Linked DNA regions of Homo sapiens: regions 1 and 2 are each linked to region 3. Evidence: fine-mapped expression QTL. A gene starts in region 3. Each other region holds a variant in brackets. All regions are shown on one strand. Distances are between the middles of the regions. Region 1 overlaps PDIA5 (protein disulfide isomerase family A member 5). Region 2 has its middle 21 kb from the start of CSTA. Region 3 holds the start of CSTA (cystatin A).

What was found. PIP is the estimated chance that this variant, and not a neighbour inherited with it, causes the effect.
Region 1: its variant is fine-mapped to the expression of CSTA in unexposed skin (GTEx, PIP 0.98).
Region 2: its variant is fine-mapped to the expression of CSTA in whole blood (Lepik 2017, PIP 0.95).

Annotation. Positions count from the first base shown.
Region 1 is chr3:123,104,514-123,108,759 of GRCh38, forward strand. PDIA5 (protein disulfide isomerase family A member 5) reads left to right here. Exons shown (of 17, transcript NM_006810.4): 6 at 2,236-2,328. Among named protein-coding and RNA genes, the nearest start is that of PDIA5, 40 kb to the left of the region's middle. The variant A/G (reference allele first, on the strand shown) is at 1,932.
Region 2 is chr3:122,302,551-122,306,796 of GRCh38, forward strand. No RefSeq gene overlaps it. Among named protein-coding and RNA genes, the nearest start is that of CSTA, 21 kb to the right of the region's middle. The variant C/T (reference allele first, on the strand shown) is at 2,492.
Region 3 is chr3:122,322,706-122,326,951 of GRCh38, forward strand. CSTA (cystatin A) reads left to right here and starts at 2,543. Exons shown (of 3, transcript NM_005213.4): 1 at 2,543-2,653. The coding sequence starts at 2,588. RefSeq lists an enhancer at 9-58.

The sequences.
Region 1 (4,246 bases), 780 kb after region 3:
TGTCAACCCGCATGGTTGGGCAGAAGCCTGGTCACAGACGCTGTGCCACGGCACCTAGAGAGGTCATAGGCCAGTTAAGTGAGAACTTATCTCCCCACTGGCAAAGAATAGGAAACTCGAAGTGGGGAATGTCCCCTTTAAGCTGCCCTTTCCTTGTTAGCACATACTCCCCAAATCCTTACTATAGAAGTGGTAAGGGCCAGAGGTGCCTGGCAGTCTGGATTCAGATGACTCACTGATGACCTCAGGGCCCAGTAGCTGTGAGCCAGGATTACAGCTATGAAGGCCAGATGTGGTGTCAGACAGTGCCTGGGACTCAGAGCACCCAGAATAGGACAGTTGAGGGTGGGCTTCCAGGTGCTGCTCCCTGCAGACTTTTGCCCTGAGGTCTTGTCCAGTTAGATCAACTTGGAGAGAACCTATGGGTGGGGTTATTCAGCTTCAGTTAAGTGAGAATAATCCTCACCTGAAAAACAAGGTTGTGTGTACGAACATGTCAGTTGTTACGTTAAAAGGCCATTTATCTCCTTTTTCCATCCACTGCTATCTTTTTTTCTTGATGCTGAGGTGGAGAAGGGGGAGGAGGGCTGGGCGTGGGGCCAGGACACCCCCCAGAGCAAGCAGTTCCTAACTTGTTCTGGAGTCCTGATCCCACTGAGCACCTACTGAACTCCAGACCTTCTCCCTGAAAGCGTGTGTGCATACAAATCAAAGTCAATGTTTTCACATGAGTCTGGGGCTTCACCGACTCCTGAAGTCCCTTGTGCACCCTAGATTAAGAACCCCTGCACCAGGTATTTCTGGAACCCCAGGCAGGTGGGTGCCTACCAGCATCTTTCTCACATGGCCTGGTGGACAGGTGCCTCTGCAGCTGTGGGTGAGTGTGGGTGTCGGGAAGACCCTGCCAATTCCATAGTTCCTTATGTTGTCATGGCAAAGCCTTGACAAGGGACTGAGAAAGGGTGGATCCGCCTTTTGCTGTGGCAGAAATGGCTGTTCTTTTGCCAGGAGGCGTTTCACAGCTCCACTTGGACAGGCAGGAAGCACTACCTGAATGAAATCCTATGAAGTCTTGGCTGTCTCCCATTCTCCCGTAGTAGTTCTTTCCAAATAGAGTTTCCAGAAATAATAAGGTCCTCTCCGTGTGTGACCAGTGGATGGGCTGAATGCACACCCTTACTATTATAGAAGGGCACTTCCCTTTCTCATCTCAGGCCACACACACGCACACACACACACACACACACACATACACTCTCAGTTCAGCATCTGCTCGCTGGAGCGTGGTCAAAGTTGACAGAAGTAACAGAATCTGGCTGGGGTCTGGTTCCTGATCCTGGCTCTCAGACTTTGAGCACCGTCTCTGAGTGACTGAAGGGAAAGGGAATGCTGCTTCTGCCCTGGACCAGTGAGAGTGGCAGAGGATACAGAGGAGGGTGGAAGGACAGTGCCACTCTTCCCTGCCCCTGTGCATCTTCCCCACAGGGAGTGGAGATTTGAGTCATTGTACACATAACAAAGGCCAGCGAAGCCCTTTATCTGTAAGAACTTGGTCAGATCTTCAATCCAGGCAGTCTAGAAGAGGGGCCCCAGCATGAGAAGTATAGCAACAAGGGTGAGGCCACATTGGTGCCCACCCTGCCCTGGGGGCTTCCCAGCCTGGACCTCACTCATTCATATACAGAGGCGGATAATCAGGATTTAATCCACTCCAAAACCAGTTTAGATCATGAAATACCAAGCAGGTCATAAGTAGGTATGATGATCTGCTTATGGGATGACAGTTTTAGTGGCTGCAGGAATGTGGAAATGTCTCCTTTGGACAAGACTGAGACCATTATTCCATTAGTCAGAAAGACTTCTTGGAGGAGATGAGATTTAGTAGAAGCACTAGTATGTCTCTGGTTTGAATAAGCCAACTCATTGTCTCA[A/G]ATTTTCTCTTTTTTGTCCTTGAAGATGCATAGTAGGCATGGACTACCTGGCTGGAGTGAGCAAGGTGTCTTGTGATTGAAAAAGCCCGATGGGAGTGGTGGAGGTGCATTTTTGGGCACTTATCCATGATGTCAGTGGACAGCGGAAATAACACACCCTCCAAGCTTATGCCACATGCAGTCCTGAGCTCAGCAGCTGGTGTGCCCAGGTCTCCAGGCAGGGAAAGAGGACAGGTTCCTGATTCCCCCACCTCCCTCTTTTCAGGGCTAAAATGCATTTTCTCTTCTCTTTTTTTTCCCTCAGTCCATAGTGGCCTTTTTGAAGGATCCAAAAGGGCCCCCACTGTGGGAGGAAGATCCTGGAGCCAAAGATGTTGTCCACCTTGACAGTGAAAAGGTAATGTATTCCCCGTCAGTTCTGATGGATGCTGGAAGCTTCCCTGGTACCAGGGCCTCCCAAGGAAAGGAGCCCAACGAACTGAGAAATGGGACTATTCCAGGATCACTTGTACTTTTCCTCTAGGGAAGCTAGGCCAGGACCCTAATATTTGACTCCCCTTCCCAGCTCCATGTTGTAACCAGCGGTGATCACAGGTTGCCTGAGAATTTTCTCCATTCTTCACCTTCCTTATTTAATGCATTTGAACACGTTTAGATTTTCCATACATTAATGTAGATTTAAATGTTCTCTCTCTATTGTGTAATCCAGATGTTGTTAGGATTGGCTTTACATCTTGTTTTTTTGTTTTTGTTTTGTTTTTTTAAAGAATAACCTTAGAGATTTGGGTTAGATTTCCAGAGACTTGAGGCAGATCTCTACAATTCTGGGTCATTCTATAGCTTTCAACCAATTATTTACCTTCTTATGCTTCAATTTCCAAATTTGGCCAGGGGTGGAGGTAGAAGGGTAGATCTAGATTATGGTGTTTATTAGTTCTTAAGTATTTAACAAAAGCTATGACAGGCCGGTTGTGGTAGCGGGTGCCTGTGATCCCAGCTACTCAGGAGGCCGAGGCAGGAGGATCGCTTGAGCCCAGGAGTTCAAGGGTAGCCTGGTCAACATAGTGAGACCCCCATCTCTAAAAAAATAAAGAATGCAAAAGCTGTGACACACATTGCCCCTCCATCCACAGCCTGCCCACCTGACCTGAATGTGCATCTTTAGCCATGTGCATCCGTGTTTGTATGATGCCTTCACTTGGGATGGGCAAGAACTTCTCTGTGATAGTCCAGATGGTCTGTGAGGCAAGCAGTGCTTTTTGTAGGTAGAGGGAGAGGGTTCATTCCTATCTCAATAAAATAAAACATAGCTTTCATCTTTCTCTTCCTCCTCTCCCCTTTCCTTTAAAATTGTTGACTTTTTTTGTTTTTAGAGACAGGATCTCGCTCTGTCACCCAGGCTGGAGGAGTACAGTGTTGTGATCATAGCTCACTGTAACCTTGAATTCCTGGGCTCAAGCAATCCTGCTTCGACCTCCTAAGTAAGTGGGACTACAGGCACATGCCACCATGCCTGGCTAGTTTTTATATTTTTTGTAGTGATGGGCTATCACTGTTGCCCAAGCTGGTCTTGAACATCTATCCTCAAGCAATCCTCCTGCCTCAGCCTCCCAAAGTGCTGGGATTACGGGCATGGGCCTCTGTAACTTGCCTATTGACTGTACTCTTAATGCTTGTTGGCCCAGAAGAAAATGATGCCTTTTTTTAACCTTCTGGAGGAAGGTAAAATATGTCATCATTGTGAGCCAACCTAGTGGATCAGTGGTGATTCAAATTAAGGACTGGGCACAACATTCTCTGGGATACAAAGAGCCAGTATTGTCATCTTGAAGATGTCTTTTTTTTTTTTTTTTTGAGACAGAGTCTTACTTTGTCACCCAGGCTGGAGTGCAGTAGCGTGATCTTGGCTCACTGCAGCCTCTGCCTCTGGGGTTCAAGCGATTCTCGTACCTTGGCCTCCTGAGTAGCTGGGATTACAGGTGTGTGCCACCATGCCTGGTTAATTTTTGTACTTTAGTAGACATGGGTTTTCACCATGTTGGTCAGGCTGGTCTTGAACTCCTGACCTCAAGTGATCCACCCGCCTCGGCCTCCCAAAGTACTGAGATTACAGGCGTGAGCCACTGTGCCCGGCCTTAAAGATGTCTTTTTAAAAAGCATGTGGGCCCGGCACTGGCTCACGCCTGTAATCCCAGCACTTTGGGAGGCCGAGGCGGGTGGATCACAAGGTCAGGAGTTTGAGACCAGCCTGGCCAACATGGTGAAACTCCGTCTCTACTAAAGATAAAAAAATTAGCCAGGCATGGTGGCATCTG
Region 2 (4,246 bases), 20 kb before region 3:
ACTCCCATCAACAGTGTATAAGCATTCCTTTTTCTCCACAACCGTGGCTGTACCTGTTATTTTTTGACTTTTTAATAATAGCCATTCTTACTGGTGTGAAATGGTATCTCATTGTGGTTTTGATTTGGATTTCTCTAATGATCAGTGATGTTGAGCTTTTTTTTTCATATGCTTGTTGGCTGCATGTATGTCTCTTGAAAAGTGCCTGCTCATGTCCTTTGCTCACTTTTTAATGAGGTTGTTTGTTTTTTCTCGTAGATTTAAGTTTCTTATAGATGCTAGATATAAGACCTTTGTCAGATGCATAGTTTGCAAAAATTTTCTCCCATTCTGTAGGTTGTCTGAAACATTTTAAATATATAAAAATTCATTAGTTCATAATACCACTCTCTTAAACCCCATCCTCCCAAAAAAAGAATTTTTAAAAAACTTAATTCTCACAATTGGAAGTTTCAGGGCAATAAGTTATTATTTGTTCATTGATTAATTAAGAGAAAGAAGTAAGCATTTAGCCTTCCTTTCTCTACTTGAACTGTATTTTAGGGTAATCAAATCATTGATGATGGAAAATTCTTCTTTATGTAAGTATTCAGTTAATATACAGAATTTAGTAACAGACTATATAATAACCTATCTAGCTATATAAGTATGTCAAAACTAATTAAATTGTATGCTTTAAATATGTGTATTGTACATCAATTATATACCACAATAAAACTGTCAAAAACTAAATATAACAACATGCACAAATAGCAAAAGTAATGACAGGACTAGAAAAATCACCATTCCACTACACCTGATGAAGCAATGCTGTCAAAAAAGCACTCAAGAATGTAGGAATTAATGTATTTTTTTATTAATGTAATAAAATATATACACCTCAGTCCTAAAGCTAGCAATTTACAGATGACATAATATTTGTAAAATCTTAGAAAAACAAAGTAAAACTAACAAAGCAATTAAAAAATTCTAAAGTTAGCAGGATGTAAAACTAACATAACAGAAATCAACAGCCTTTAGAAATACTAACAGTAACCAATCAGAAAATAAAATAGAGGAGAAAGTCCTATTGACAATAACAACAAAAAAAAGATGAATTCTAAGGAATAAATTTAACAAGACATGTGCAAAATCGGTATGAAGAAAATTTTGAAACACTCCTAAAATACCAAAAACTAGACTTGAATGAATGGAAAGATGTTCTTGAATAGGATCACATTCAAAAGATGTCTGTTCTTCCCAAGTCGATTCACAATTAAATATATCAAGAAGATTTTTTGAAACTAGATAAGTTGATACTAAAGTTCATGTGAAAAAATAAATGTGCAAGAACAGCTTTAAAAAAAAAAACTGAAAAAGAACCATAAGGCCAGTCGTCAGGTGGGTAGAAAAAAGAAAAAGAAGAACTATAAGGGAAAAGTAGCACTACCAGACATTAAAATATATTTTAAAATCTCCAGCCAGATGTGAGGGCTCACACCTGTAATCCCAGCACTTTGAGAGGCTGAGGCGGGTGGATCACCTGAGGTCAGGAGTTCGAGACCAGCCTGGCCAACATGGCGAAACCCTGTCTCTACTAAAAATACAAAAAATTAGCCGGGCATGGTGGGGGGGCACCTGTAGTCCCAGCTACTTGGGAGGCTGAAGCAGGAGAATTGCTTGAACCCAGGAGGTGGAGGTTGCAGTGAGTGCCATTGTACTCCAGCCTGGGCAACAGAACAAGACTCTGTCTCAAAAATAAATAAATAAATAAAATAAAATAAAAAAGAAAAAGAAAAGCTCCATAATGAAAGTTTGGTTTTGGCACATACATAGATAGATCTGTGTAAATGAATTCAAAGTCCAGAATTAAACCTAAATATAAATGTAAATTTAAAATATGGTAGAAAAAAAATCATATGGCATCTAAAAAAATCACTGGGGCAAATATGACTATTTAATATATGGTGGGAAGACAACGTGATAGCCATTATGAGAAAGATAAAATTGAATCCACACTCTAAACTATACATAAGAATAAATTCTTCTGGGCTTGGTCGCTCACGCCTGTAATCCCAGCACTTTGGGAGGCCAAGGTGGGCTGATCGCTTTAGCTCAGGAGTTCCAGACCATCCTGGGAAACATAGTGAGACCCCCGCTCTCTACAAAAATACAAAAATTACTCAGGCATGATAGCACGCATGTGTACTCCCAGTTATTCAGGAGGCTGAAGTGGGAGGATTGCTTGAGCCTAGGAGACAGAAGTTGCAGTGAGCCGACATTGCTCCACTGCACTCCAGCCTGGACGACAGAGAGAGACCCTATCTCAAAAAAAAAAAAATAAGAAGAAGAATAAGAATAACCTCATAATAGATCAGAGATCTAAACTTAAAAGATGATGCTGGCCAGGCATGGTGACTCACACCTGTAATCCCAGCACTTTGGGAGATAACGAGGTCAGGAGTTCAAGACCAGCCTGGCCAATATGTTGAAACCCCATCTCTACTAAAAA[C/T]ACAAAAATTAGCCGGGCATGGGGGCGCGTGCCTGTAGTCCCAGCTACTCAGAAGGCTGAGGCCGGAGAATCACTTGAACCCAGGAGGCAGAGGTTGCAGTGAGCCGAGATTATGCCACTGCACTCTGGCCTGGGCGACAGAGCGAGACTCTGTCTCAAAAAAAAAAAAAAAAAAAAAAAAGAAGCAGCAGCTAAACCATATAAATACAAGGAGAAAGCAATGGTGAATTATTAACCTGAGGAAAGACTTTCTAACTGTGACTCCAAATCCAGACTCAGTAAAAGAAAATACTTATTGATAAATTTGACTATGTAAAAATAAAAAATTGGCACATCACAAAAAAGAGCACCAAAGGCAAAGTCAAACTGAGAGAAAAATATTTGCAACATCTGTCATAGGTGATGGGCAGTACCCCAAAACTCAATATAAAAATGGGCAAAAGACACCAACACACCATTACATGAGGTTAAGAAAAAGGCTGTGAAGGTGAGCAGGCTCTTGTCCTGATAGGTTATAAGCAAAGTTAGCACCATTTCTCTTCTAATAAAAAGAGAAATAATCAGGCTGCAAGGGCTTTTATGTCAGATTTTTTTAAGACACCTCTGAGGGATACTTAATTGAAAATAACCAACTGAGTTAGGAAGCTGCTACATAGCCTGACAACAGGGTTAGTTTTATCAGTGATTAATAACAATTGAAGTCTCAGGATAACACCAAATCTTATTTGTGAGTTTGCGTTTCTTTCTATCTGGCCTTAAAAGTGACTAAGTAAGAATGTATGCTTAACTTTGAAAAAACAACTCTTTCTATTTCTAACACTTGACCAGACAGCATAATGATCTCTTTAAGCAACAATTCCTTGTTAAGTGGCTGGAGTTAAGATTCCCTCCAACCACTAGATCCTGTGAAACTATGATAATTCTGTGATAGCCCAGTGGAGAAAGCATAACAGAGGTGCCATTGGCCACTTGGTGGCAATACATCCTAATTGCGTGTAAAGTTCTGAAACGGTAATAAACAGCATGCTAACAGACTTGGAAGCTAATTTATGCAGACATTTCAAGCAGTTTACAGGTGCCTTAGTTGGAAAGGTCAGCTAAATGCTTAATATCCTTTAAAGGTGCATTAGAAGCAAAGCAAAACATACCTTGTGTTTGCCAAAAGTATTTGTGGGTACTCTCTAGGAAATTCTATTAGGAAATATCTTTGGAGCTAGAAAAGATTCAGAGGGAAAGTAAAACTGCTGACATAGTAGCAATAACCAAAAAATACATAGACTGTAAAGAGATTTCATTAATAATATTAAGAACCTACCACTGTGTGTAGTCATCTGAGCTTGAACAAATCAGTTAAACTTTCAGGGCTTCGATTTCTTTGCCTGAACTGTGAGCTAGCTCAGAGGTCAGCAAATGTTTTCTGTAAAGTACCAGGTAAAACCTTGCAGACCAGCAGGGTGCAGTGGCTGGCACTGTAATCCCAGCTACTCAGCAAGCTGAGGTGACAGGCTTGCTTGAGTCCAGGAGTTGGAGCCTGCAGTGAGGTATGATTGTCCCACTCCACTCTAGCCTGGGTAACAGAATGAGACTCTGTCTCTGAAAAGAACATTTTTAAATGAAAAAACTTTGCAGGCCATACGTTGTTTGTTGCAACTTCTCAACTCTGTCATTGTAGCATGAAAGCAGCAATTGACAATACATGGCTGTGTTCCAACAAAACTTTATTGGTGGACACTGAAATTTGAATTTTGCATAGTT
Region 3 (4,246 bases):
AAATATGAAATATATGAGGATATCTAGCTCCAGAAACACAGTCTGCATAATTCATACCAAAAAATCCAAAAAGCAATCTTAAAGGTACCTTTAAAATAAATGTGTATTTAATCAACTGTTTGTTTAACTTAAGTAAACAATTAATACAGAGATATGAATTGTGCTTTTCTCTTTTGCACTTCCTTGTGTGCGACTCTTTCCCTGTCAATCAGAGGCACACATACTACTCTTGAGAAGAACTAGGATTGTTATAGGAGGAATACAAAACACAAAAGCAATATTTGCTTTGGGGAAGTTTTTACTTCTAAAATAAATTATTGAGAATCAATAGGAAAAAGCTGAAAGTACAGGGCATAGACCCTAGAAAGAGAAGGGTAGACTTGTGGTTTACCATATCTCTTACCACTGGGGAGATTCAATAAGGATGGCCTGGACTAGGATGTCAGCAGACAACTAAAAATGGGCTTCAGGCTTGGAAAAACGTCAGGGGCCTTAATATGAAAGGACTTGACTTGGGGAGGTCACATGAAGATGAGTAGAACCAGTGGCCTATGAAAGCTGAGCCAAAGTCTTCAGATGACCTGTGGCCTCTTGAGGGAGCACCTTGTCATCCACATTCGCTGTTCTTCTTAATCCACAGGGTAAAGGCATTCTATGGAGAGATACTTGTGTAGCACCCCTTAGTTTAGCCTGTAAGACACTCACTTAGCTCCAAGAGTTTGCCAAGCACCCACCAAACATCATTATAAAGAAACAAGCACCTCCCTGTATTGTGATATAGAACAGTCTCCAAAATATATTGTTAGGAATAAAACAAAAAGTATAATAATTTATGTAGGATACCATTTTTATAAAAGAAAACCTATATAGATGAATATGTATCTATGTGTGTGTGTGCGTGTGTGTGTAGCCAATTTTTTTTTTTTTTTTTTTTTTGAGACACAGTATTGCTCTGTCACCAGGCTGGAGTGCAGTGGCGCGATCTTGGCTCACTGCAACCTCTGCCTCCCAGGTTCAAGCGATTGTCCTGCCTCAGCCTCCTGAGCAGCTGGGACTACAGGCGCACGCAACCACGCCCAGCTAATTTTTGTATTTTTAGTAGAGATGGGGTTTCACCATGTTGGCCAGGATGGTCTCAATCTCTTGACCTTGTGATCCACCCACCTCGGCTTCCCAAAGTGCTGGGATCACAGGCGTGAGTCACCGTGCCCAGCCTCCAATTATTTTTATATTTGTATGTGTAAAGAATGTCTCTGAAGGATACAGAAGAAGTTGGTGCCAATAATTGTCTCTGGAGAGTAGAAGGGTGTCTGAGGAATTAAGTGAGTGAATAATTCCTTATATTGTAAAGCCTGGTTCCTTCCAAACATTTTTATCCTGTGTATGTATTATATATTCCCAAAATTGAATAAAATAATATACATAAATATTCACACAATGTGGCCATTTTGCTTCTAGATAAGTTGTCTGCAGAAGCCCTCACTCATGTAAAAAGGAGAAAAAATGCAACGTTGTTTGTAAGAATGAAACACCAGAAACAACGAAAATCGTCATCAATAGAGAAATGAGTATGTAAAATATGAACTAGAATATAGCAATTAGATAGGTAGACTAAATAGATAGGTCTAGCATAAAATAGCATATCACAGTTAAAGGAAATGAACAGGATTGATCTATCTGTGGATTGATCTATGTGTATATCAACATAGAAAGGCTCAAAAACATGTTGAATAGAAAAAGGAACATAACATAGAATATATTTAGCATACAATTTAAGTGAAATTTTAAAGACACACCAAGTAAGACATATTTTAATTTTAAAGACACACATATAAAAATGGCCTGGAAGGATATTAATTCACCATGTACTTTGCCTTCTGGAAGGCAAGGTTGCGTGGGGTGTGGGGCTTCCTCCATATCTGTAATATTTTATTTCCTAAAAATAACTACAAAAATAAAAAACAGCAAGCAAATATGACAAAAGGGTTAAAAGTTTTAATTCTGAGTGATAGAAATATAGATGTTTGTTATTTTATTCTTTGTGTTTTACCGTATGTTAAACATTTCCAGATATTTAAATAAGAGTAAAGAAGACACATCCAGCCAAGGTCCTCCAGATAGATCCTTTTGCTTTCTTTCTAAAGTCAAGTAAATTCTAAACTAACCTTGACATTATTAGTAAGTTTTGCTTTAAAAAAAATAAAATTTTGTGTTAGAAGTTTTAAAACATTTGGAAATTCTAGTTGCGGCTTCAGATTTCATAATTCAGATGATGCAACAGGATGGAACCATTGTCAAAGAGAATGCAGGGACGTTTGATGCTTGTTAGGACATGACTCCTGTACTTGCCCATTTGTTCATCCTCCAACCCCTCTTTCTTCCAAATTCCATGTAGCATATTCTCTCCAGGAAGCAAGAAGACTTGCCTGGCGGCATACTCATTTTCCCCATGCCTCTTTGCTGTTTGTGGAAAATAAAGCATTCTATAGGCGGAGCTAGTGAACGCCTCTTTTAAAACACGAGTCTCCACACTTCCCTGTTCACTTTGGTTCCAGCATCCTGTCCAGCAAAGAAGCAATCAGCCAAAATGATACCTGGAGGCTTATCTGAGGCCAAACCCGCCACTCCAGAAATCCAGGAGATTGTTGATAAGGTGAGTTGATGCCATTCAGGAAAAAGTCTGAGCCAAAATCTTGATTCATAAGTTGTCCCTGTGGAAAGGCTGTGGTTGAACATGAAAACCAGAAGTTTAGGATGTTTGTGGCTTTGTTCAGGTTTCTTTACAACTAAGATGAAATAAGAGTTTTTCAGATGAAGCCTCAAATAATCCCCAAACTGTGAGTGTGACCTTGAGCAAATCACATTTCTTCTCTGAGCTTCATTTTCTCCATGGGTAAAAGAATTTGTATTGTATCTTCTCTAAAGCTCTTACAAGATATGATTCTAGAATTACTAATTCAGTTTCTGATGAAACTTTTCTAATCTCACCAAGTGAAGCCAACGTGTAATTGAAGTCTAAGGTTATTAACAATTTGATGAAGTAGTCTTGGAATGCACTGCAGGGAAAATTTTTTTAAATAGATTGAATGAAGAATAATATTGTAAAGGCAATCTACTTACAAACTTCATACACTTTTGCCCAAATAGATAGTGTTTTAGTCTTTTCATAGTTAAAAGGTAATTCAACTAATAGAACAGAGGTGACAGTCTATAGTGACTCCGAAATGTCATAGGGCACCAAATTATATATGGAAAAATAGAACTCAATGTTGTTAGCAGATTGATGTGTTTTTCACTTCTTCTTTTTTGTTTTGTTTTGTTTCATTTTTAAGAGATGGGGTCTCACTCTGTCACCCAGGCTGGAGTGCAATGGTCTGATCACGGCTCACTGTAGCCTCAACTTTTTGAGTTCAAGCGATCCTCCCCACTCAGCCTCCTGAGTAGCTGGGATTACAGACATATGCCACCACGCCTGGCTGATTTGGGGGGTTTTGTTTTGTTTTGTTTTTAGAGATGGCATTTCATTCTGTTGCTAGACTGGTCTTGAATTCCTGGGCTCAAGCCATCCACTCACCTAGGCTTCCCAAAGTATTGGGATTACAGGCGTGAGCCACCACACCCATCCCTGATATATTTTTCTTTGTGTGATTAGCTATCATCTAGCTATGTAGTAAACATTTATTTGCATATTTTATGAAAGGAAAACATGTACAAATTACTACTTTAGGTTTTTAGTTTGTTGCCTTATTTTCTTATATTATTCCTTCTTATTTTTTCTCTCTGAAACATCATTCTATGACAGCTTGGAAAACAAGATCAGCTTTTTGTGTGATTATAAGAGTTGGGATCCTGTATATTCTGGGAACTAGAAAGCTCTCTAAGGGGCCAGATGCCTAGAATCCCATCACTCATTCTTGGGGACTAATTATTTCTCTTTCAAGAGTTCTTTTTTTAAATAAATATCTTGGAGCTTTTTTCCTGGGAGATGATATTAAGTCAGTAATGTCTTCATGTGAATCCCCAGATCAGATCAATGTTCTCAAACTTGAATGTGCACATGAATCACCTGCACGTCTTGATAAACCTTAGATTCTGATTCAGGGGACCTGGGGTAGGTCTGAGATTCTGCATTTCTACCAGACTCCCAAGTGCTGCTGCTGCTGCCACCCATGGCCTTGCTTGCTGGCAGGACCAGAGATATATGGCATCCTACAAGGCCAGTGGGAGATGGGGCTTTAAAAGTCAG